Linked DNA regions of Homo sapiens: all the other regions are linked to region 2. The links come from fine-mapping of genetic effects on gene expression. A gene starts in region 2. Each other region holds a variant in brackets. All regions are shown on one strand. Distances are between the middles of the regions. Region 1 overlaps LOC105377700 (a long non-coding RNA gene). Region 2 holds the start of CCNG1 (cyclin G1). Region 3 overlaps LOC105377700 (a long non-coding RNA gene).

What was found. PIP is the estimated chance that this variant, and not a neighbour inherited with it, causes the effect.
Region 1: its variant is the best candidate, but not a certain one, in a credible set for the expression of CCNG1 in spinal cord (GTEx, PIP 0.55).
Region 3: its variant is the best candidate, but not a certain one, in a credible set for the expression of CCNG1 in whole blood (INTERVAL, PIP 0.89).

What each region holds. Positions count from the first base shown.
Region 1 is chr5:163,375,991-163,384,180 of GRCh38, reverse strand. The region is part of intron 1 of LOC105377700 (a long non-coding RNA gene); the gene reads left to right. Among named protein-coding and RNA genes, the nearest start is that of CCNG1, 58 kb to the left of the region's middle. The variant C/A (reference allele first, on the strand shown) is at 4,362.
Region 2 is chr5:163,432,911-163,441,100 of GRCh38, reverse strand. CCNG1 (cyclin G1) reads right to left here and starts at 3,506. Exons shown (of 7, transcript NM_004060.4): 1 at 3,297-3,506; 2 at 1,581-1,844; 3 at 1-23. The coding sequence starts at 1,844. It also overlaps a transcript of LOC105377700 not described here. RefSeq lists enhancers at 2,942-3,141, 2,833-3,410, 3,852-3,901 and a silencer at 3,582-3,661.
Region 3 is chr5:163,222,742-163,230,931 of GRCh38, reverse strand. The region is part of intron 2 of LOC105377700 (a long non-coding RNA gene); the gene reads left to right. Among named protein-coding and RNA genes, the nearest start is that of CCNG1, 210 kb to the left of the region's middle. The variant T/C (reference allele first, on the strand shown) is at 3,543.

The sequences.
Region 1 (8,190 bases), 57 kb after region 2:
TGCCCTGGCTTCCCAAAGTGTTGAGATTACAGGCATGAGTCACTGCGCCTGGCCTGTTTGGTTTTATTTTTAATCGGCCCTATAATATTTTCATCCTGATTCTGATTTACAGCACTGTTCCTTTATCGTTAGTAGGAACTGTCATTCCTTCATAACTAGTGATTCTGTTGGGACTGTAGATTATATTAACTCAGTTTTTGGGCACTGGCCAATAATATTACCCTATCAGCTGGTAACAATGATTGGTCTAAGGGAGGGGACATGGACAAGTTAGCCAGTCAGAGGCTTTCCCTGGGATTTTACATACTAATAAGGAGGGATTGGGGGAAAGAAACTTTCTTCCTTCCTTCCTTCCTTCCTTCCTCCCTTCCTTCCTTCCTTCCTTCCTTCCTTCCTTCTCCCTCTCCTCCCTCCCTCCCTCCTTTCTGTCCATCCTTCCTCCCTCCCTCCCTCCCTCCCTCCCTTCCTTCCTTCCCTCCTTCCTTCCTTTCTTTTCTTTTCTTTCTTTCTGTTTTTAGATGGAGTCTCACTCTTGTCGCCCAGGCTGGAGTGCAGTGGTGTGATCTCAGCTCACTGCAACCTCCACCTCCCGGGTTCAAGTGATTCTCCAGCCTCAGCCTCCCAAGTAGCTGGGACTACAGGCACATGCCACTGCATCTAGCTAATTTCTGTATTTTCAGTAGAGACGGGATTTCGCCATGTTGGCCAAGCTTGTCTTGAACTCCTGACCTAGGGTGATCTGCCCAATTCGGCCTCCCAAAGTACTGGAATTACAGGCGTGAGCCACTGCACCTGGCGAAACTTTCACTTTTCTTTTCTTCTTCTTCTTTTTTTTTTTTTTTGAGACGGAGTTTTGCTCTTATTGCCCAGGCTGGAGTGCAGTGGTGCGATCTCGGCTCACTGCAACCTTTGCCTCCTGGGTTCAAGCAATTCTCCTGTCTTAGCCTCCTGAGTAGCTGGGACTACAGGTGCCCACCACCACACCCGGCTAATTTTTGTATTTTTTAGTAGAGATGGGGTTTCACTATATTGATCAGGCTGGTCCCGAACTCCTGACCTCAAGTGATCCTCCCGCCTTGGCCTCCGAAAGTGTTGGGATTATAGGCGTGAGCCACCACGCCCAGCCTGTTTATCCTTTAAGACCAGCTGAGATACCACTATCTTTGTGAACTCTTCTCTAATTTGTTTAGTTAACAATGGGTCTCCACCTGTGTCCTATATAGCCCTGTGTCTTAATGACATCTATTCCATTCTGCCTTCTATTGTGTGTTCCAGTGTTGTGTAATAATTCACCCAAAATTAATGGGTTAAGACAAGTACTATTTTATTATCTCATCATCTTCTTGGTTAAAGGTTTGAATAGAACTTAGCTGGGGGCTTGCTCCTCTTCGCCTGTTGTTTGATGGTCACTCAATGGTATTTAGCTGGTCTGATCTAGAAGGTCCAAGACAGCTTCACTCACCTGCCTTGCTCCTTGGGAGGGTTGCTGTTGCTGGTGTATCCTCTCTGTCCTTTTGGGTTTTGTTCTCTTTCCTTTTGGGTTCATGCCTTAAACAATTTCTATCCTGTTATTTTAGCAAGGTTTCTGGAGGGAGCATGTGTTCAATCTAGTATTTTTACCCGGAAGTCCCCAAAACCTAGTTTATAAAGTACTTTCATATTTAGTTTCTATTTTCTCTTTACAAGAGCCTGGTGAGTATTACGCCTCCATCTTTTAAGACAGAAAAGCTGAAACAGACACGTGTTTTGGCAGTCAAGCCTTTTGATTGCAAGGAAAAAAACTCACTCAAGCCAGTGAACGTATATGTGATATTCTAATTTAAAAAAGTATTCTCATCAGCCCCCAGGCTCACGCTTGTGGTCTTTGAGGGTTGCTGTGGGTGCACCATCTAGATTTTCCTGGTTTTTGGAGTCCAGGTGTTCATTGGGATTCTCAGATAAAATACAAGATTCCCAATTTTATTTGCATTTCAGACATATAACTAATAATTTTTTAGTAAAGATATGTTTCAGCTATTTAATGGAATACTGTACTTGTACTAAAAATCATTGTTTACCTGAAATTCAAATTTAATTGGGCCTCCAGAATATTTATTTGCCAAAGGTAACCGTAGTCTACTTAGGTCAATAAAGGGTTCATGAGTATGAGGAATGATTGAGTTTTATGAGAATAGTTAAGAAAACACCCTTTGGCCTTAGCGACGGACTATTTCTAAACCTGGAATCATTCTTCAGCAAAATCCTAAAGAAAGGGGAATGTTGTTCCCTGTTTTTTTTTTGTTGTTGTTAAAAAAAAAAACCCTTTTTACCTTTCCCTTTATGTCTCACCACATGTAAGCTGATTTAATTTTCAAGCTATCTTTCAGCAACATGTCATTGTCATATACTCAAAATAATAGATGTCATTTTTTGAGATCTTACTTCATGCCAGGCATATTGCTAAATGCTTTAGATGTATTATCTCATCTAATTCTCATATGAACAGTAGGTATCAGTAGCACAATCTTATTTTACAGGTGCATGGGGGGAAGATGCAGTTGATAAAGCTTAAATGAGTTGCCTAAGGCTGGTTACTAAGTGATTGAGGGGACAGTGGAACAGTAGTGCTCTAGTTTTTTCCTGAAAGCAGAGTTTTGTTGAAAAAGAAAGGCTGTGAAATTAGTTCATTGCATTTTTTTAATTATACTTTAAGTTTTAGGGTACATGTGCACAACGTGCAGGTTAGTTACATATGTATACATGTGCCATGTTGGTGTGCTGCACCCAGTAACTCGTCATTTAACATTAGGTATATCTCCTAATGCTATCGCTTCCCACTCCCCCCACCACACAACAGGCCCCAGTGTGTGATGTTCCCCTTCCTGTGTCCATGTGTTCTCATTGTTCAATTCCCACCTATGAGTGAGAACATGCGGTGTTTGGTTTTTTGTCCTTGAGATAGTTTACTATTGCAAACTGGAATGATGGTTTCCAGCTTCATCCACGTCCCTACAAAGGACATGAACTCATCATTTTTTATGGCTGCATAGTATTCCATGGTATATATGTGCCACATTTTCTTAATCCAGTCTATCATTGTTGGACATTTGGGTTGGTTCCAAGTCTTTGCTATTGTGAATAGTGCCTCAATAAACATACATGTGCATGTGTCTTTATAGCAGCATGATTTATAATCCTTTGGGTATATACACAGTAATGGGATTGCTGGATCAAATGGTATTTCTAGTTCTAGATCCCTGAGGAATTGCCACACTGACTTCCACAATGGTTGAACTAGTTTACAGTCCCACCAACAGTGTAAAAGTGTTCCTGTTTCTCCACATCCTCTCCAGCACCTGTTGTTTCCTGACTTTTTAATGATTGCCATTCTAACTGGTGTGAGATGTTATCTCATTGTGGTTTTGATTCGTATTTCTCTGATGGCCAGTGATGATGAGCATTTTTTCATGTGTCTTTTGGGTGCATAAATGTCTTCTTTTGAGAAGTGTCTGTTCATATCCTTCACCCACTTGTTGATGGGGTTGTTTGTTTTTTTCTTGTAAATTTGTTTGAGTTCATTGTAGATTCTGGATATTAGCCCTTTGTCAGATGAGTAGATTGCCAAAATTTTCTCCCATTCTGTAGGTTGCCTGTTTATTCTGATGGTAGTTTCTTTTGCTGTGCAGAAGCTCTTTAGTTTAATTAGATCCCATTTGTCAATTTTGGCTTTGGTTGCCATTGCTTTTGGTGTTTTAGACATGAAGTCCTTGCCCATGCCTATGTCCTGATGGATGGGGTCTTGCTCTGTCACCAAGGCTGGAGAGCAATGGCGTGGTCTTGGCTCACTTCAATCCTTGCCTCCCGGGTTCAAGTGATCCTCCTGCCTCAGCCTCCCGAGTAGCTGAGATTATAGGCACGTGCCACCATGCCCAGCGAATTTTTGTATTTTTAGTAGGGAAGGGGTTTCACCATGTTGGCCAGGCTGGTCTCGAACTCCTGACCTCAGGTGATCCCCCTGCCTCGGCCTCCCAAAGTGCTGGGATTATAGGCATGAGCCACCATGCCCGGTCAGTTCATTGCTTTTTTGTGTGTGTGAATAATTTGGTAAATTTTCTTTTTCCACGGCCTTTGGGATTTTATGTGGTTTTGGCCACAGAAGGAGTCCAGGTCTCCGAGTCTCTTGTCGTTTGTGCCTTCATGGCACCATGTGAACTCTCCTTTTCTTTTTGTTGCTCATTTTTGTAGGCCTGCTGGACAAATTCAAATTCCAAAACAGAAGATAGCCAACAAACCCAGAAGATATTGACTCTTTATATTCATGCTTTCACAGAACAATGATGAGTGGTACTATTCTGCAGGATAAAATTGGAAAGAACTCAGTA[C/A]ATTCATTGTTCAAAGCAATTGATTCACCCTTGAGAAAGCAGGCCGGTAGTTGAAGTGTGTTTACACAGTGACTCAGCTTCTGCTCAGAATTGGGTAACAGGTCTTTATTATCTTTACTTTCTTTCTTAGAAAAAAAAATTGACTAAGTTTTTACAGTGGGATGATTGCAGCATTTGGAGGTCTGCATAAAAATTTCAAATATTGTTGTTCAGCATTTTTGAAGAGCCCCATTATGATTTAGTCCCCATTTCAGTTCTTTCTCACCACAAGAAAAAAGATGCAGTTTTCTTTTCTTACTTAAATCTATCAATGAGGTAACTCTCTGAGTCGTGTGTGTGTGTGTTGTGTGTGGGTGCTGTTGTGTATGTGTGTTGTGTGTGTTTATACCAATAAATTCAAAAGATACTAATAGGGCCTACTGAAGGTAATATTTTGCTAGCCACATTTCTTTCCCCAAATCCTTTTTTTAAATTTAATTTTATTTTATTTTAAACTCTGGGGTACATACACATGACGTGCAAGTTTGTTACATAGGTAAACGTGTGCCACAGAGGTTTGCTGCACCTATCAACCGATCACCTAGGTATTAAGCCCAGCATGCATTAGCTATTTTTCCTGATGCTCTCCCTCCCATTGTACCCCGTGACAGGCCCCAGTATGTGTTGTTCACCTGCCTGTGTCCCTGGGGTCTTTCCCCAAATTTTAACAAATAGCTTTTCTACAGTTTGAAGCTGTGATTGAAAATGGGGGAATAGAAGAAGCTAGGAAGTCTTTAAACAAAGGACATTAAAGTGTGTCCAAATGAGTGGGAAACTGGGCCTCTTTATAATAGGCATGCTATGTCTTTTTGTGTTGAATAAACACAGCTATTCTGAATGCATCTCTGCTTTCAGAGACACACTGCAAAAATGCTAAGGATAGCTCAGCCTCTGGTACTAATCCCTTTTGTGACTTTGAGCAATTCCTGTAGCATCACTAGATTTTAAGTTTTCTCATTTCCAAAGAAGACAGGTTAGTTCAATGTTTCCTGACTTCAGTTATGTGCATAGCTTTCATTTTTTGGTCATATCCCATTATTATAGATGTGGCATAATATTTGTTTATTTCTAATATTTTTTATTAGAAATAAATTATATATATAGAATATTATATACGTATAGAAATATATATATAAATATATATAGAAATATATATAGAAATTATATATAGAGAATATTAGAATATTATTCTAATATTTCTAATATTTTTTTAAAAGGCTCTCTCTCTCTTTCCTTTTAACTGAGGTAAGTATATGAGGAATGCATGTCAGTGGTGAAGGCAATGGCCAGGAGAGAATAAGGTGCAGCCTGTGGAGAGGCCAGGGCAGAGGATGCGGTTCTCAGGCTGGGGGTTCAGGAAAATAGAGGGAAAGAGTTTGTAGGAACGGGGGAGAGGCAGACAGAGCTGGGCTTTCTGGCACTTCTTTTGAAAAAGAGTTTGGGCCCAGGGATGGAAGGGATGAAATCTAGAGAGTGGGAGGATCTGAGAATAAAGAGGGTGCTAAACTGAAGGGTTGCCAGGAGGGACTTAGGGAAGAGGAATCTAGGAAGCCGGGCTGGCGCCTGCTCCCTGGGAAAACAGTGCTTTCCCTTAGCCTCCTCTTTTCCTAAACACCAACCTGCTGGCACATCTGGCCACAGCCCTGTGCCTTCTTTCTGCCCGCGGTGTCTCTGAGCTATCACGTGCTACAGCCCCTCCTTAGGGAAGGCTGTGGCATGGGAATCTCGGCCCAGGAGGAGATCTGAGAAGGTGAAGGGTAGAGGAGTTTAAGAGGGACCCAGAGGTGAGAACTCAGGTTTTTGGAATCAGTTTCAACTCTAAAGAATGCCTCCAGTTCTACTATTCTATTTCTCCACAAACTGTTGCCAGTTACTGAAGGGGAAAAAGTTTGTTAATGAGAAAGGCCAACCTGTAGGTTCCTTGTTTCATGCCCTTTGTTTTATAGAATTTCAAATCAGTAGGTGGGAAAAAAGACTTGCATATCTTTATTTTTGGCAGTTTTCTTTATCACAATTGTTTTAAGTAACCTAGTTCTCTTTTCATTGTGCTCTTACTTTCAAGTGACTAGAAATCAGGTTATAGAATTAAAGAATGACTCAAATGGAATTTGAGGTTTGGGATAGAACGTGCTCAAGTCTTGGAATTAGAAGGCATGGATATCAGTTTTGGGGCTACCACTTGCTGACCTGGTCAAGCTATTGGATGTCTCCAAATCCAATGTATAATCATCATAAAAAATAACAATATTGATAATAATACCAAATTATTGTAAAAGGAGAAAGAAAAGATTAAGATGTCTATGACGATATTTCGTTAAGAGGAAGGCACTTGCAGAAAGCTTTCTTTTGTGCTAGGCATTGAAGTGGTTATTAATTAGGTCTCCAAGAGCAAAACAGAATTTTGGTGTTTATTGTATTTGTGCGATCAATGCCTACTATCACACTGTGGATTTGAATTACAAATCTTGTTTGGTAATCTTTCCCTAAGAAATGAATTCAAAGATTGTCAAATATCTACTCACTTCATACTTTTTATTATTAAGAAATTCTGGCATCTAAGTCTTCTAATATTCCACTAATATTCAAATAACCTACTGCTATAGGCACTACTAGTGAATTAACAAATATCTGTTGAGTGTTGCCTCTTGGTAGAACATTTTGATTAAATGGAGCATGCGTTTGCTTGAAGTGAGGGGCACTGCACACCCCCATGCAGCACAGCCCTAGGAACATCATTTCTAGGTGCCGAATGCCATGATGTTGCTTGAAGATAGGCAATGTGGTGGCCTGCTGGAGGTTGAAGTATATATTTTTTTGGTTGAGCAATTAAAGTATACAAAAATTTCAAGCTGTGTCCCAAAGGTCTTTTGAAAGCGATAATGATAGCTTGTATTGGGAAGTTTATTTCAAGGAAAGTTTACACATTTAAATGCAGGATTATCTAGTAGGAATTTTATATGCTGATATGAAATTCATGAAGGAATTCAAAAGCAATGCTTTGTTTCAAATTCATCAGACCTCTAATTTCTTCAACACAATAAATAGTTTTACCTTGAAAAGGCTTAAACAAAAGGCAATTGCCTAAACTTTCTCAAAATTCTAAATCCGAATGTGATTATGTTCTTCCTAAGTTGGAGCAAGAAAACAGAGATACTTCTAAAAAGTTAAAAACTTCAGTATCAAATTCTACTCTCTTCCAGATCTGACATCTTTTATTATGTACAATTATTGACAGGTTAGTTCATTATTTGCAATTAAGCGGGAAAAGTACTCATATTGAGTAATGGAGTCAGATAATTGCAATTTTATTTTTTAAGGTAATTAGTCATTACACAAATATTTTAGGTTTAAATCTATTTCGAGTTGAGGTTAATTACATCTGCCATGTCCCAATACAAATATTTAATTACTTTAGTGAGTGCAAGTTATATTTCCTCCCATGTTAAAAAACAGTGACTTCTAGTTTTATAATCAGCTTAAGTAAAAAAGGACAACACCAGATACTAACAATAGCTGTGCATTATAAAAATAGTTTAAGAATAAAATTATGCCAGTGGTATTTTAGCAATTGAATTAAGTAAAATTATCAAAGAAAGGGTATAGAAACATTACTCTTAAGGAGTGATTTGTTTGACTACATTGGAAAAGTTCCTAGGAACTGATGAAGTATAGAATGGAATTGTGGAATAAAAGGGTGGCAAGGAATGAAAAACAAAACAAACAAACAAAAAAACTGCATTAGTTTGTTTGCTGTTAAAGACATACCTGAGACTTGGTAATTTATACGGAA
Region 2 (8,190 bases):
CACCCAAGGTGCTTGGGCTGTACCTAAAAAATCAAAAACAAAACCAGTAAGCCCATGACTCTACCTTATTTCAATTAAAACATAAAGGATAATCTAGAACTCCGACCCAACATTTTGAAAATGTATATTTGAGGTTTATTTCTCAGCTGTGATGGACTTAACACAATCCACTCATACCTAAACTATAGCCTGTCAACACTATGGACCCCACTTAGAACCAATTTTTGAGTAACTGGACTGAGTTTCAGTATAATGTTTGGCTCAGCATAGAAAAAGTGTGTTTTTATTAATCACTGTAGAACTATAAGTAAACATTGTTCTAGTTTGATCAAATAAGTTAACTAGTCAAAGATATATGAGGACTGAAATACTTTATGGCTTATTTACAAAATAAGCCATTTCTTTGCAGGATGTTGTATTTTTTCCAGGCTCTTGTCTTTGTGGGAACACATATAAAACAGTTTTAAAATACTATGGCATATACTGTTTACTCTGCCTCTAAGAGTTCTATCCACTACTAATCTTTATCATTTAATTTTCTGAATGTCTGCCGTATGAGACACAGTCAAAACTTTATCCAGTTTACTTCCAGCTCACATGAAACTAAGCTTTTACCAGTATTAATATCTCTGTGCTCTCTCTCTTCTTGTAAACTCTTCAGCAGTACACTTATGCCTCTTTAAAGGCATAATGTAGTTATTTTTCTTATTATGACTTGTACATAAGAGCAACGATCTTATTCTCACATAAGACTGAATTATACCTGAGGAATAGCTGTATATTATTCATTTGTGCAACATTTACAGATTCAAAGGTAATGACTACATGTGAAATGTCTAAAGAGCTTAATTAGTCTGTTGAAGCAAATTTCTTGAATCTTCAACAAATATTGAAGTCCTTTTTTATGATGCACTGTGTTAGATACCGAGGACTAAAATATGAGTTTCCTTCCAATTGTCACATCATCTTATTTTCCTCCAGTGACCATGGGTGTACAGGAAAGGCAGATGCATTTGTAACAGTTAAGCTCTGAAAGTGACAGTCTTGTTTATCTAGTATAGGAAAATAGTTGCTCCTCCTTCAGACACACTCTCCTCCCTACTGCATGTACACTGAAGCTGGAAATGCCAAGCATAAGCAAGTCTTGACTAGGTCTAAGGCTAAAACATTTACAATTTTATATATGGGTAGTGATTAACAAATATATCTTAATTCTTAGCCACAATGTAGCCTCTAATAAATTTCTGCCACTAATAAATTTGTTTATATCTAAAAATAGTAAATAAATGGACAAATCCAACCTATCAAGAAGGGTTTTTTAAAAACAGCCAATTTTCTTACTAGGAAACTGCAATTTGTTACTTGATATTAGACTATTTTTCATTTCAGAATTTAAGTCTAATACCTGATGTACTACTCTTGATTATGATAAGAAATATTAATGCTGTAGTAGACAAAATTAATGTTTTGGCTACGTGCTGAAAAAAAAAAGGTCAAGTTTATGAATACCAGCCAAAAGGTAACAATTCCATCTCCAAAACACACTGAGCAAAATTACAAAAATGTAGCTTCAAACATACCTTCATTTTAGACAGGAATCTGTCCAGTAAATTCACAGCTAGAGAAAATGTCTCTGTGTCAAAGCCAAAGAACTGAGTTAGACTAAGAAGATCTTTTACTTCAAAGTCCCTTAGTCTTGCAGTCATTCTGAGGCCATTATCGTGTGCAGACTCAATTAGTCTCAAACCACAGACCTTTGGCTGACATCTAGACTCCTGTTCCAACAGGGCATTCAGCTGGTGTAGCAGTTTCTGAGAGTCAGTTGTTGTCAGTACCTCTATCATCTATATATAGAAAAAAAGACCAGCAAGGAGTGTAAGAGTAGTCCTTCCTGCTTTCCTTGGCCATCTTTGCACTGGGCCAAGAAATGATTTATAAGCCTCCCATCCCCCAATGCGGCTAGTGCATCTAAGTCATTGCAAAGTGCCATCTGTTATTTATTTCCCTTCTACAAGTTGGTCACATCCTAAATTGAGTTCCTAGAGGGAAGGAACCATGCTTTTTTTTTTTTTTTTTGAGAAGGAGTCTCGCTCTGTTGCCAGGCTGGAGTACAGTGGCACGATCTTGGCTCACTGCAACCTCCGACTCCCTGGTTCAAGCGATTCTCCTGCCTCAGCCTCCCGAGGAGCTGGGATTACAGGCATGCGCCACCGCGCCCAGCTAATTTTTATATTTTTAGTAGAGACGGGGTTTCACCATGTTGGCCAGGATGGTCTCGGTCTCCTGGCCTTGTGATCTGCCCGCCTCGGCCTTCCAAAGTGCCGGGATTACAGGCGTGAGCCACCGCGCCCGGTCGGAACCATGCTTTTTAGAAAAATAAAATGCAAATCTTCAAGAAATACTTGTTCAAGTTATTCACTGTCAATAGATAACCACGAATAAACACCGTAAGACAGGATACCGAAAGTGAAAAGCAGATGGTAGTTAAGTATTCTGCCACATATTAACAAAATGAACTGTTCAAGTTACTTAATTGTACTTAGTTCCACATTGATAAAGTAGGGATAAGGTTTATGACCTACCTCACAGATTTGTGAGTTAAAATGAAATCACGTAAAGAGCTTAGCACATACAGTAGACGCTTAAAAAACACTGAACAATAATAATGAGCTTGAGCTTCTTTCTAGATTTATAAAATGAGGGTAACAATATCTGTCGCTGAATGTGAAGACTGAACAAGATGATTCACCACTTAAAGAGTATAGCACAGTGCTTGGCACACAATACTCAATATTACTTAACTTTTATTGTTGTTAGGAAAGGAAACTTAAAAGGTGACATTAGGAGCACGTATTGGGGCGGGGGGGTGCGGTGGGTTGTTGCTAACCTAGTCTGAAAGATGAACCTGGGAATTCCATTGATTTAAGTGTGCATAACACAACCATGTCCCGGGCACAAGCTAAGCCCTGGATACATGGAAGGTCCCTCCCACACCAACTAAAGACAGGAAGGCAGGAGGTCTTCAGAGCTAGTCATGTGAGGAACCTCTAACTGCAGGGGTTCCATTCTTCCTCCCCAGGCTAGTCCCTGGGACTGGGTCGGCAGACACGAAAGGCACCTCAGGAGGCCGGATCCGGCTCCGCCCCTCCAGCCTCGGACTAGCCTGGGCTTGTGCTCACAACAGCGGTAGAGTTTAGTGTGGAAAAGGGCGCGGGCCAGACCTACTCCTCGCCCCGCGCCCCCAACCCAGCTCCCCACCCGCACCTGGCGGTCAACTCCCGCGCAGTCCCACTCACCTTGACAGAGACTGCAGCTCCTCAGCGGTAACCACCCTCCCCGGGCCTGCTCACCTCACCCCACGATATCAGATCCGAGAGGCCTACGAGGAGAGGGGACTCGTAGGCAAGAGGAGAGAGGCCCGGGGAGGGGGACTGTCCTGGGTGGAGGCCTCGGCAGCGCCGCCGAGACAACTCGGCCCTGATCAGGGTCAGCTCGGAGCCGAAGGGGCCGCGCCTGCCCTAACGAGGAATATATTGGAGGGCGGGGCTTTCTCGCGAGAAGGGGGCATTTTCGCCGCTGATTGGTGTAATTCTTTTGATGGATGGCCTCCGCGATCCGTAAACGGCTGGGCCGTGGAGTGAGAAGTCCGGCCAATCGGCTCACACTTCCCGTTATCTGGCCTCAAATTCCCCGGCCCCCTTCCACGCCCCTACCTCTAAGCGTCTCTCATTGGAGAATTTAACAAAGTGTCTTCATTCAGTAGGGGGCCAAACTAAATACTCGGTGCAGCAACCCTCGCCTGGGTCAGGTCAATCGGCTGCCAGCCGGATTGGCCGGCGTATCATTCCAGAATGTACTGTTTGTTCTGTGGGGTTTAGGAGTTCTACAGTGGTTCTGCCCCATCTTTCTAAAAATACAGTGAGTAGTTAAAAAAAAAAAAGTCAACCTTTGATTTTTAATTACAGATAAAGAGGTGGTGGAATTTATATGGTTTGGTGGTTTATCAACTTCCAGAGTGCTCTCTTCGTGAACTTTGGAAGTCAGTTGATTCTTGCCTTAGTTTGCTTTTTATACAATTTATCAAATAATGGAGTTGGACTGTGTAATTTCTTGACCCTCTACCAATTTTCTGAATTTGCTTTTAAAGCAAATTTAAAGAGAAAAGTTGGTACAATTTTTCAGTTGCTTAAAATGAAAGGTATGTGGCAGACTGTTAACAGGAATAATTGTGGTGAGTGTGAATCTCAGTCTACAGACCCGAGTGTAAAGCAGTATTACTCTTTGTATTTACCATAATGAATTTAATCTCTGTGAGCCTCTCCTATGCCAGATTAGTGGGAAAATAATTAGCCTGAACTCTTCTTAGACTCTCCTCACTCTCACTCTCCCAGATCATCACAAGTGAGAAAAGTCCATTTGTAAAAGGGCCTGAAAAAGGGTGCACAAGGAGTCATTTCTAAACTCTTATGAATTACACAGTAGTTGGATGTCTCTGTTCTCATGGCCCCAGTTCGGTCTCTCTTACTTTGAAAAAGTGAAAATCTGAAAGATTTGCCGTCACTCTGCTATTTGCCCTGCCGTGTACTTACCCAAGGCAATGCCACAGAACAAAACTCTGGAAAGGGGGAAAAGGGGTGGGGAGGAAGGGGAAGGAAAAACAGGAGAAAACATCAATACCTCACAATAATACCTTAGCCACATAATCAGGTCAGTTTAAGAAACTGGGGCTCAAATGGGGAAGAGGCCTTTGTTCCTTTTGAAAATAAAAGCTTACCTAGTGAATATAAATTGGCAATTTATAACCTTTAACAAGTGATTTTATTTAAAAATACTTTTTGCTGTAATGTGTGAGTTTATAAATGTAGTTTCTCCTTTTGGCTTTTAGTTCCTATTATTCCTAATTCCTAAAATTAGGAATGTATATGCACAATTTTTAAAAAAAATGGCTAAAAAATCATAAAATCTTTATGGCAGGCTGGGCGCGGTGGCCCACACCTATAATCCCAGCACTTTGGGAGGCAGAGGCGGGTGGATTACCTGAGGTCAGGAGTTTGAGACCAACCTGGCCAACATGGTGAAACCCCGTCTCTACTGAAAATACAAAAATTAGCTGGGCATGGTGGCACGTGCCTGTAATCCCAGCTACTCGGGAGGCTGAGGCAGGAGAATCGCTTGAACCTGGGAGGTAGAGGTTGCAGTGAGCCGAGATGGTGCCACTGCACTCCAGCCTGGGCAACAGAGCAAGACTTGGTCTAAAAAAAAAAAAATTCTTTATAGCAATCAAAAGCACGAATAAATTAACTAATATTTATTGAACACATAGCATAGGCCAGTGGAGAACAAATTAGACTGGTACCCGTCCTTGTAGAACATGTAACCTGTGGGCAATATAAACACATAGACTTTAGAATAAAATAAACTTATATTCATATCCAGGAATAGCTCATAACTTGTTATGTGACTTTCAGCAAGTTATTTAATCACATTTTCTTTTCTCAACAATGAGAAGTAAAAAATACATTATTCATGGGGTTATGAAGAGGATTAAATAATAGAAAGTGCATAAAGAGGTAGTCACTATTCCCAGATCACAGTAGATTTCTTGATAAATGGTAGCCCTTAGTATTAAATTACTATTTCTTTTTAAATATCTTGCTTAAACACACTTTGATGTGTTTTCTCTGTTATCAGACTAGTCTTCTGTTTTCAGCCTAGAAGGATAATCAGAGTATTAGAACTGTTTATTTAACACAGATAAAAATATCTAAATTGCATGTATTAATTTCTATACGTTTTTATACTTGAAATTTTCACTTGAGGGCTTTTAGGTAATATATCATTGTTTATATAATACAGTATTTTCTCGTACATTAGAATATTTTTACTTTTTATTAAAATCTCTCACATAAAAATATTTCACTAGTACTGGAGAGACATTAATTAAATATAAATCAAGTCAAATTGAAATTCTTTACTTTTCTTCCTCCCTTAACCCCCTCTGCCATTTTCATTTCAAAATGTTAGAATATAGACCATCATTTAAATAATTGAAAAGACCTAATTAGCAAAATGTGGAAATGTAATACTCAGTTATCCACTCTTGTAAAATAAAGATAATGAGCCCTTCGTTAACTATGATTTTATTTTTAAAGAAGTGTGGATTTAATCATGAATTCCTATTGAAAATTTGTTAAATGACTGACTTCTGGGGGTATATTCTAGGCTCAATGATGTATTCAATTCCTATCCTCATACCTTCTTCTCCATTAACAGTTAAGTACAACAAGAACTAATGGTCAGAATAATGGCCTTGAGGCTGGGCAAGAATCCAGGCAGTAACGGGAAGATGTAATCATATTCTCCGCATGGTAGGCTGTAGACATGCCTTTCAACAACAAAGATTATAACAAGCAGGTATAAAACAGTGGTGGTGTGTCAAATACTGCCCTGACTCACAGGGAAATTCCCGGTTGGCTTTGTTTGTTTCCATCTTGGAGATGTGGGAGTCTGTGCCTTCCCTCCTGCACACAATGTCCAATCACCTTACCCTCTTTTCAGGCTCCCTAATAAATGTCTGGTACTTTTGTGTGTAGCCTTGTCCAACTATGATAAGGGCCAAGGAAGTGAGGGTCAAAAAGATCTCAGCTGAGTTCCCTTCTGCTTTCTGATCCTTCCTGTAACTGTGCATTACAGCCTCCTCCACTTCTCTAGCTGTTCTCTAGTGCATCTAGTCTATCTTATTCATTTGAAGTTAACTTGCTTGTCAGTGGCTCCTTTAATTCTTTATTAGTTTATGGGACACCAGTGAAATTAAGTATGGTTGGGAGGAGAAAGACAGAGAAGGATACATAAAAAACATAGATTAACAATTCCATGAATATCCTTCTACTCAGAGGTTCTAGCTACCACTTCTATACTCAGATAAAGTAACCCCTTCCAATTAATTGAGGTTTTACTATATATTTCATGAAAAACTAAATTTTTGACTCATCAAGTAACCACTGCTATATAAAGGCACTGGGTCACATTAGAGGGGGATCCTCTGTTCTCTAATGGCTTTAGACTCTGTTGAGTACAAAGCTTAAAGCCAAGACCAGCCAAAAACGTACTATATAGGGTTTGCATTTATTATATGTTTCCCATGTGCCAGGTCATCGTGCTGAACTTAAACACACCTGCCTTTGACAACTCTGATATTTTTATTCTCTTCAGAAATGTGGGATATTTTATATATCTCATGTTTAGTAACTGTTTACTATTTACTAAATATACTTCACACAAAACTTGAATTTGGATTTTTCTGCAGTTTTTTAAAAAGTTTCTATTTCAGAACATTTAAGTCTCATTACCCAGCTTCAATAATCAACATTTTGCCCATGTTGACTGTTTACTTTGTTTGTCTATCAACAAGTATTTCTTGAGAACTTTGTAAGTGCCAGACCATTGTATTTTGTAATCCCAGATAAAAAATGCTGCTACAGCTTTTGAGCCACAGGATGTGTTGGCTGCTGTTCTCTGTGAACGTAAGACGTCAGAAGGATCAGCTGGGTCATTGTCCTCCAGTCAGAAGCCAACACTGCAGGTGTCTCTGTTGTCTCCTGCTTTGGAAGGAGAAGGAATGGGAAGGCAAGAACAATTTCCTTTCTTATCCAGGTTTCTGCCTAGGTTGCTAACCTTCCTCCCCCAAAAGCAAACACACACACACACCCAAACACACACACACACACACACACACACACACACACCCCATGTACACAAAACGTTTTGGCGGAGTTGAGAATTGGACTTAAGGCCTTCCTTGTTTCACGTTACTACCTTCCTTATCTTTCTAGCCTTTTAACTCTTTTATCCCCCTCTCTGATTTTGCCAACCCTTTTCTCTTTTCTCTCCCCAAACCTCAGTTTTCTAATAATTAGTACATCCCAAGGTTGTTTTTCACTGCCTGTACTGTTGGTAGGGTCAGAGCCTCTTCGTGGCTTTCAGGTTCTATGGCTGGTAGAGGGCAGTGAGGAGCCCTCCCTTGGCATTCCAAGGGTTGGTGGGTGAGTGTGGAGGAAAAACACCCAAGTTAGGGTAATGTATTCCACATTACAGTTTGTCTTCAAATCAAACAAAACAAAGCAAAACAAATAAAAAACTTTCCAGAGAAATGCATGAATAACCATAAAAATAAGTGCTATGACAGAGCCA
Region 3 (8,190 bases), 210 kb after region 2:
TCCACTCTCCAAGGGGTTAGAAGTATCTGGTCCATGGATATGAATTTAACATAATGCATCATCAGACAAAGGAATCCACTTTACAGCAAACAGTGTAACTTTGAGCACATAGCTATGATATCCACTGTTCTATCTTGTACCACACCATCCAGAAAATACTGGCCTGCCAGAGTGACAGAGTGATAAATGAGCAGCTTAGTAAGGGCACAGAACATTCTATATGTTCTTAATCAATAACCATTATAATGTGCTGTATCCCTAATAAATATTCCAGACTACATAAGTCTGGGAACCAAAGAAGTGGTAGAAGGAATTGACCAGTTTCGCATCACTTTCAATGATTCCATTACAGAATTTGTCTTTCTTATCCCTACAACTTTGGGCTGTATGGGTCTAGAGATTATGACTCCCAGAGGGAGAGTGCTTTCACCAGGAGACGCAGAAAGGATCCTATTAAATTTTATGGCTGAGGTTTTAAACACATTAGAATCTTTGTGCCAAGAAGTCAGAAGGCAAGTAAAGGAGGCACGTAGTAGTGAAAATTGACCCTCATCATCAGAAGAGGGTAGGACTGTTGTCCTCCAGTGAACACCAGAGGATCCACTAGGTGTTTCTTGGTACACCTCCACCCACTTGTGATCATCAATCGACAAGTGCAGTAACTGTAGTATAAAAAAGCTGTGGTAGGCAGGGGCTTACATCCTGGGGCTTAGACTGGCAGAGGTGCTGAGTGTGGGGGAAATCTAGAATTAGTAACAGAGGAAAGAGATGATGAATATCAGTTGAGACACTGAGAAGAGCTGCAGTGGTGGAGGGATTGTCATTTATCTCACTAACCTTTCACTTGTGTGTGTCCCCAGGAAGAGAATGACCAAATCCTGGAGGAAGTATTCCCAGATGAGGTGGACTTAATTACTACTGATGGATATGGGTGGAACAAGGGGTAGACCCAAGAATGTGGTGGAGTGCTGCCCAGAACACTCACATCAGTATCAAGGCACTCATTCCACCAGCTTCTGGAAGCGTTAACTGCTGAGAGGGCACAGCTGAGACCCTCCCACAGAATGCCCTCGGCAGGAGGCCTTTGCCTCACCCAAGTTTACATTTGCTCTTCAGGAGTAACCTACATCCAATTACAAAGCAAGAATGTAAGGGCCTGTTCCCCTTGCCTCAATTCAGGGCAATGTAGAAGACTAGACTATTAGAAGAGTAGGCTAGTTTCAGAGATCTCCAAGGGATTGGCTGCGGCCAACTTTTTCAGAGTTCAACTTTTCCCACTGCTCACTTATTCTTCTTTCACTCTGTTACAAATGTTGATACTGAAATCACTTCCTAATGAACTTCATGCCTGCAAATTTCCATTTCAGAGTCTGTTCTCCAGGAAACTTAATCAATAGCACCTTTCCTTACCCTTATTTAATTTTATGCCACAAAACAAATTATCAGCCTTCAGTCAATATAAAATTGTACTTGGAGTATTAATATCAGATCTATAAGAAATTGTCATAAATGACTTGTTTTAGTGATCCAGAATTTATTAAGCTTTCTCTGGTAAGGGTATACTAATTTTCCTCTGGGATCCACTCCTTTTTCCCTTATTTTGTGTGCTTTGCATGACATTGACTTATTCCCAGCTCAAAAGATTGACTTGAGATTTAGGCCTAACCATTCAAAGTATCACTTTTTTCCTGAACTCTTCCAAAGTTCAGAAATAAATATGTCACTCAATAAGAGCCAATAAGGCACAACAAAACTTATGTGAGCAGCTAAGGAAAAAGATATGTGGACTTTGCCTTCTGGATTTGAACATGCAAGCCTGTGGTCTGGAACTGCTGGTAACCATTTTGCACTCTGGGAGAGTGGAACCAGTAGATGAAGGGAGTCTTCGTCTTTATGTCATTATTAAACTCCTGGATCAAGACATACCTGAAGCAAACATATTCTTGGAGTTTCAGTTGTATGATTTCAATAAGTTCCTTTTTAAAAATAAGCTATTTGTGCCGAATTTCCTGAAAGTCTCGTTGCTGAGGCAGTATCTTACTGAACTAAGTCATGGACGTGAAAAATTAAATTACTAAAAGTGCTTTGGATGGAGAAAGCAATTACATGAAGAGAACTCTGATCTGAAAAGTGTAAGGTGCCATTTTGAGCACTTCTAGGAGTTCTAAGGAAAGTTTAGGTCGATATTTTCCCTTATCTTACAATATGTTCCATTCTTGTTACCATGATAATTACTGTAATCATATCAGCATGGTCTAAAAAGGTCCTGCAGTTAATAGTGGAGAAAACAGGAACACTTTGTTATATTTTGCCTAATTGTTAAATATGGTATTTGCAAATCTAGAATCTTCTTCAGGATAGAGAAAAATGCCCCATTTATGGCATAATTGCACTGGCTAAGAACAGTCTATTTTAATATCTCTGAATCTCTATTTCCTAATGTGTACAACGGGGAAAATTCTTCCTGCCTAACACGAAAGTTGTAAAGATAAAATGAAATGATGTACACATAGGTACTCTGTATATTATACATGACTAAGTAATTGTCTGTGGCTATTGTTGGTGGGTATCCAGCAATAAATAAATAAATGATGCAATCCTAAATCTTCTAATTTGTTCATAGCTAAAACATAATATGGTATTTGCATAGATACCTAATTTTTTAACTTCTTAAGGAAAACAATAAATTGAAATATATAGGACAGTTATTAAGGAGTCATTGCCTATTTGTTTATTTATTTCAATTTGGCTTATTTGCAGTCAGATGGATAAGAGCCTTAGTTCTTAAAGAGATTAATCCTTAGAGTCTAGGAGCAAACATTATCCAGACTTCCTTTCTGGGACTCCTTCTTATTGTTTTTAAAACTTTTGAGAGTACCCTTAAGCACTGAATTTATGTCAGGATATTGAAAATGTCTGCCTATACAGAAATTTCTTCCACTAAACTGAGAACTCCTTGAGGCTAGAGGCTATCCGTATTTCAATATTCTCTCAATGCCAGGCAACTCACACTGATTTACACACTGCTAGTATTAAGTCTGTTTGTTCACGATTTAAATGTGTTGAATTTAAATTAAGGACATTCATTTTGTAGTTTTTATAACTCTCCTAACATATCTATTGTTTTTTGCTTTAGCTCTATTTTTGCTACCTGATTAATTTATAGTAGAGGATTAATCTAGAAGAAGAAGTTTTGATTATTAGATCAAACTTCCAGGGCTGTTCCTGGACCAGATGAGAAAGACAGATATTAAATTCCTTAGCAGTTATTTAAAATACTTCTTTTTGTTTTTTTGGAGACAGATAAAATCTCTCTTTATTGCCCAGGCTGGAGTGCAGTGGTGTAATCATGGCTTGCTGCAGCGTTGGCTTCCCAGGCTATAGCGTTCCTCCTGCCTCAGCCTCCCCAGTAGCTACAGGCATGCACCAACCTGCCTGGATAAAATTTTATTTTTTTGTACAGATGGAGTCTCTCTATGTTACCCAGGCTGGTCTTGAACTCCTGGTCTCAAGCAATCCTCCCGCCTCAGCCTCCTAAAATG[T/C]TGAGATGACGGGCAACGGCCACCATGTTTGGTGATTTAAAATACTTGTTCACAACAGTAATGTGTGTTTGATGGGAAATTTAAATATGTGGAATAGTAGAGTGTAAAAATTACTAATAGCATTGGGAATCTAGCATATATATATAATATTTATATATACAACATGAATGTCCTCAATTTAAATTAAACAAATTTAAATCATGAACAAACAGACTTAATACTATCAGTGTTTAAATCAGTGTGAGTTGCCTGGTATTGAGAGAATATTAAAATACTTATAGCCTCTGGCCTCAAGGAGTTCTCAGTTTAGTGGAAGCAATTTATGTATAGCATATACATATTATATATTATAATATAGCATATATATATGCTATAGATATAGCATTGGGAATGCCATGCGCGCACACACACACACACACACACACACACACACACACACAGAGACAGAGGGAGAGAGAGAAAGAGCAAGATATATGCCAGACAGATGATAGTGATTCTCTTTGGAGAAGGGAAGGGATTGAGAGAAGGTCATAAAAGGGGAGTTAATAATTTTTACATTCTACTATTTAACATATTTAAATCATTCATGTGGATAGGGTGTGTAAATCATTCATGTGGATAGGGTGCATTTGTACACACATGTGCACACACATGATTCCCAATGCTATATATACATATATGTATATAAATAAATAATATCATACTCTGAAGATTGTTTTGGAACTTGCTTTATTTTTTTCTTTTCTTTTTCAATTAGTGATATATCTGGGATGACTATCCAAACCAGCATATAGAAATTGTTTTGTGATGTAAAATGGTTGCATTGCATCTGTAGCATAGCATAATCATGATTAATATACATATTTTCCTATTGGTAAAATTTTTGTTTCATTTTAATTACAAAAAGAAATAATAATATTTTAGAATGTTTATCTTTGAACAGGTCAGAATCCTGTAGCGTAGATTCATAGAAGTGGAATTCTGAGTAAAAAGACATGCACATATAGAATAGATGCCAAATTACCCTCTAAAAAGGCTGCACCAATTTCTACTTCCACAGTTTTGGTCTCCATACCCTTGTCAAATATAGACATTTATTACTTATTTTTACTTTTTACTGACCGATGTGTAAAAAATCATATTTTATTGTTACTTTATTTGCATTTCCCTAATTACCAATGAAATTTTCTTGAACATCCAATTCTTCATTCTCTGGAAACCCATATACTCCAGTTTTTCTACTTAGATTTGAATCATTATTTTAGAAATTCATGTATTAGTAAATCACATTATTTTTCCAGCAAGGGATGATAAGAGCAGTGACTCTTAATCCTTTTAAATCTTTGAATTATTTGACTCTCTGACTTACTGAAAAGCCAAAAGATATTCCCAATTACTTTCTCCGTTTCCAAGCCAATTCCTGTCTTCTAGGTATCCTACTCACTGGGGCTCTGATGGGTAGGTATGCTGCATTTAAAGCAGGATAGTTCTTTCTTCTGGAAGACTTTGAGAATTAGATGTAATAGTAAGAATAAATCATATGTACTGTTGTTTAATGAGTTTCTTTTGAATTTAAACACTTAACCAGGTTTTTTGCATTTAATCCTTTCATCAGCCTTATGAAGAAGTTATTACTTATACTCATTTTACACGTAAACTAAAACTCAGAAAATTAAATTGTTGTCCCAAGTTTCATAGCTAGTAGGTGTCTGACTCTAGAGCTGTGACGATTCTGTGGTATCTTTATAGCCTTGTCCTAGTCTGTCTCTAATTCACACTCCATAGGCTTTTTTTTACATATAAAACTTTAGTAGGAAATAAAACAGAGATTACAAAACAATACCGTTTCCTTTTTTATGCAAATACTTCAATATTCCAGTATTTTTACTCACTTGCTAAATAAAACACACAACTGGAAACACTAAATAACTCTGTTAGTCTAAATCTTTTAAAGAATAAAATGTTGGGTAAAAACCCAAAATTGACTAGTGAGATATGTATGACCTTGTTTATTATCTATCATAGGCAACAAGATGATCCTTGAGACAGAGAGTAGAGCATTTACAGGCCTTGTCAGGAAAATGTGACTAAATCCTAGGTCCTTCAACCCCGTAGCTATCAGCTTTCATTTACTGGTGTTCTGTGAGGAAATTAAGCCATGATCAGGCTATTCTTTTCTCAGTTTTCCCGAGGATGGTATGCTAGTAATATTCTATATACACAGGAGATAGGTTAATTCATTAAATATGATGGATGTCTTGGGCCATCAGGGCTTAATGCTCTCCTGGAATCCTTGTTGAGAAGTGCTGATAGACTGTCATCTTTCATGAGTCTCTGTCACTTGAGTACTGTTAATTGTTTAAACTTTAAAAACAGACACACATGAAAAATGACTCTTAGTGCCCATGAGATAACATTTCTGTGACTTTTTGATACCTGAATGTCACTCAAGTAACAAGTCCACATAGTAATAAACTTGTTCTACAAAGTACCTGACTATTGATAATTTCAGTGGCAAATCTGTTAAAAAGGCTTATTTTTACTTTCATCTTCCCACTACTCAAAATGTACGATTTCTAAGAAATGTCCTGGGGCCACAACCATGCTATGTTCTTCCAGAATTTTCTTTTTTTTAATACTTGGCCTTAATTTTATTTATAATCTATGGAGTTTTTTTTTTCTTCCAGAATTTTTGTCAAAGATTTTGTACTTAACAGTCTCAGGGTAAAGGCTCAGGTTAAGGAAATTGCCCAATGTTCGTTCATAGCTGGTTAGTGACAACGTCTAGATTTCTATTTAAGTCTATCGACTTCAAAGCTCTTTGGACTAAAGTATTGTTTTTCCTAGGTAGCCAAAAAGATTGAAATAAATGCAAATGCCTATGGCTTATAAGGTAGTTATCTTACAACTACCTTCATGATTTGAAAAACAGCCACTCAAAAATGATAGTAACAGTAACAGTGACATCTAAAAACACCTGGTGAAAACACCAGGAGGTAATATGCTGTAGTGAAAAACAAGTAAGTCATTTTTGATGTCATGAAAATGCAGACTAGATGTAATTTAGATGAACACTCAGTGAACACAGAGGCTTGCACTTCTTTACCTTTAATGAGAGGAGACACGCTTATTGAGAGATACAAAGTTTCTGTGAGAGATGCCTCCTCTTGAAGTAGGTTAGATAAGGTGGTCATAGTGTCTCTTAAAGGGGAGCAAACCTGCCAAATAAATGGAGATAACAATCCACTCTGCAGTGTATGAACTGCATTCTGGGCTCATGGTTGAACACTTTGCAGCAAGGAGGTAAAAGAGCAGAAGGGAAAATCCCCAAATTCATGCAACTGCAGAAACCCATGATTAGTGTCTTTGGGCTGACTTATTATGCTCATTATAATAGTAAAAGACACCCTTGGGTAGAGAATTAAGAGGCTTATGAGACATGGGATGTATGTACTAGCATGTACAGCAAGATCTTTGTAATCCCCTAAACTTGTTAAATAAGATCAATCTGTTACTAATACCATAAAACTTGCCCCAATACCCTGTAACTCAGGCTCTTAAGAATTCTGGAGAGACAAAGGTAAAGCTAGAGATCGGACTCACTCCTACAACCTTGAAAGACATTTTGAATTTGATGATAACATGAGATCAAACTGGCACCTGATAACTCAAAGAAGAAAGGTTTTATGAAGAGTTTATAGAAGCCCAGGTGCGGTGGCTCACACCTGTAATAATCTCAGTACTTTGGGAGGCGCAGTGGACAGATTGCTTGAGGTCCAAAGTTCAAGCCAAGCCTGTCTAATATGGTGAAACCCTGTCTCTACTAAAAATACAAAAATTAGTTGGACTGTGGTGGCTCGCGCCTGTAATATAGCTACTTGGGGGACTGAGGAAGGAGAATCGCTTGAACCCAGGAGATGGAGGTTGCAGTGAGCTGGGATCCCGCCACTGCACTCCAGCCTGGGCAACAGAGACAGACTCTGTCTCAAAAAAAAAAAAAAAAAAAAAAGAGTTTATAGATGAGCTCCTGCCCATTATGACAATATTTTTCTGTCTCCCAATTTTTTTCTCATTCTTACTGCAGTTTCCATAACAACCCATATCCCATAAGCAACTGAAGTTACTAATGAGGAGACAGTTTTCACTAGCTTTTTGATGTTTGGGAACCGTTTTCTCATTGACACTCTGTGATTTTCAGGGAACCTTTGCTCTTATTGACACTCTATGATCTACAACCCTGCCAATTAGGTTGTAGTTTCCAAGCATTCTAGACACCCCAGTGCCTACTATAATAACATTTTAAGTTTTGTGGTTGTTACACCAGTATCAATAAATTTTAAAAAATATAATTTTCTTTGAATGCATGTAGGGTATAAGAAAAACATATTTTCTTCAGTGTTAGCCAGTCTTCAGAAAGAAGAAAAAGACTTACTCGTCTTAATAAAAACAAAGGTAAAGTGTTATTGTGATTGTGGGAAAAGGATTTTTGTAGCACTTGATGTGGGAAAAGAATGATTTCAAAAACTTCACAGTTTATCAGTCTCTTGATTATGACTGAAGGGAAAATACATAGTGTGCATATTTAATTTTTCTGCCCTTAGAAACTGTTTTTTATGATTATTTTTGGTTATTAGGTATCTCTCATGGA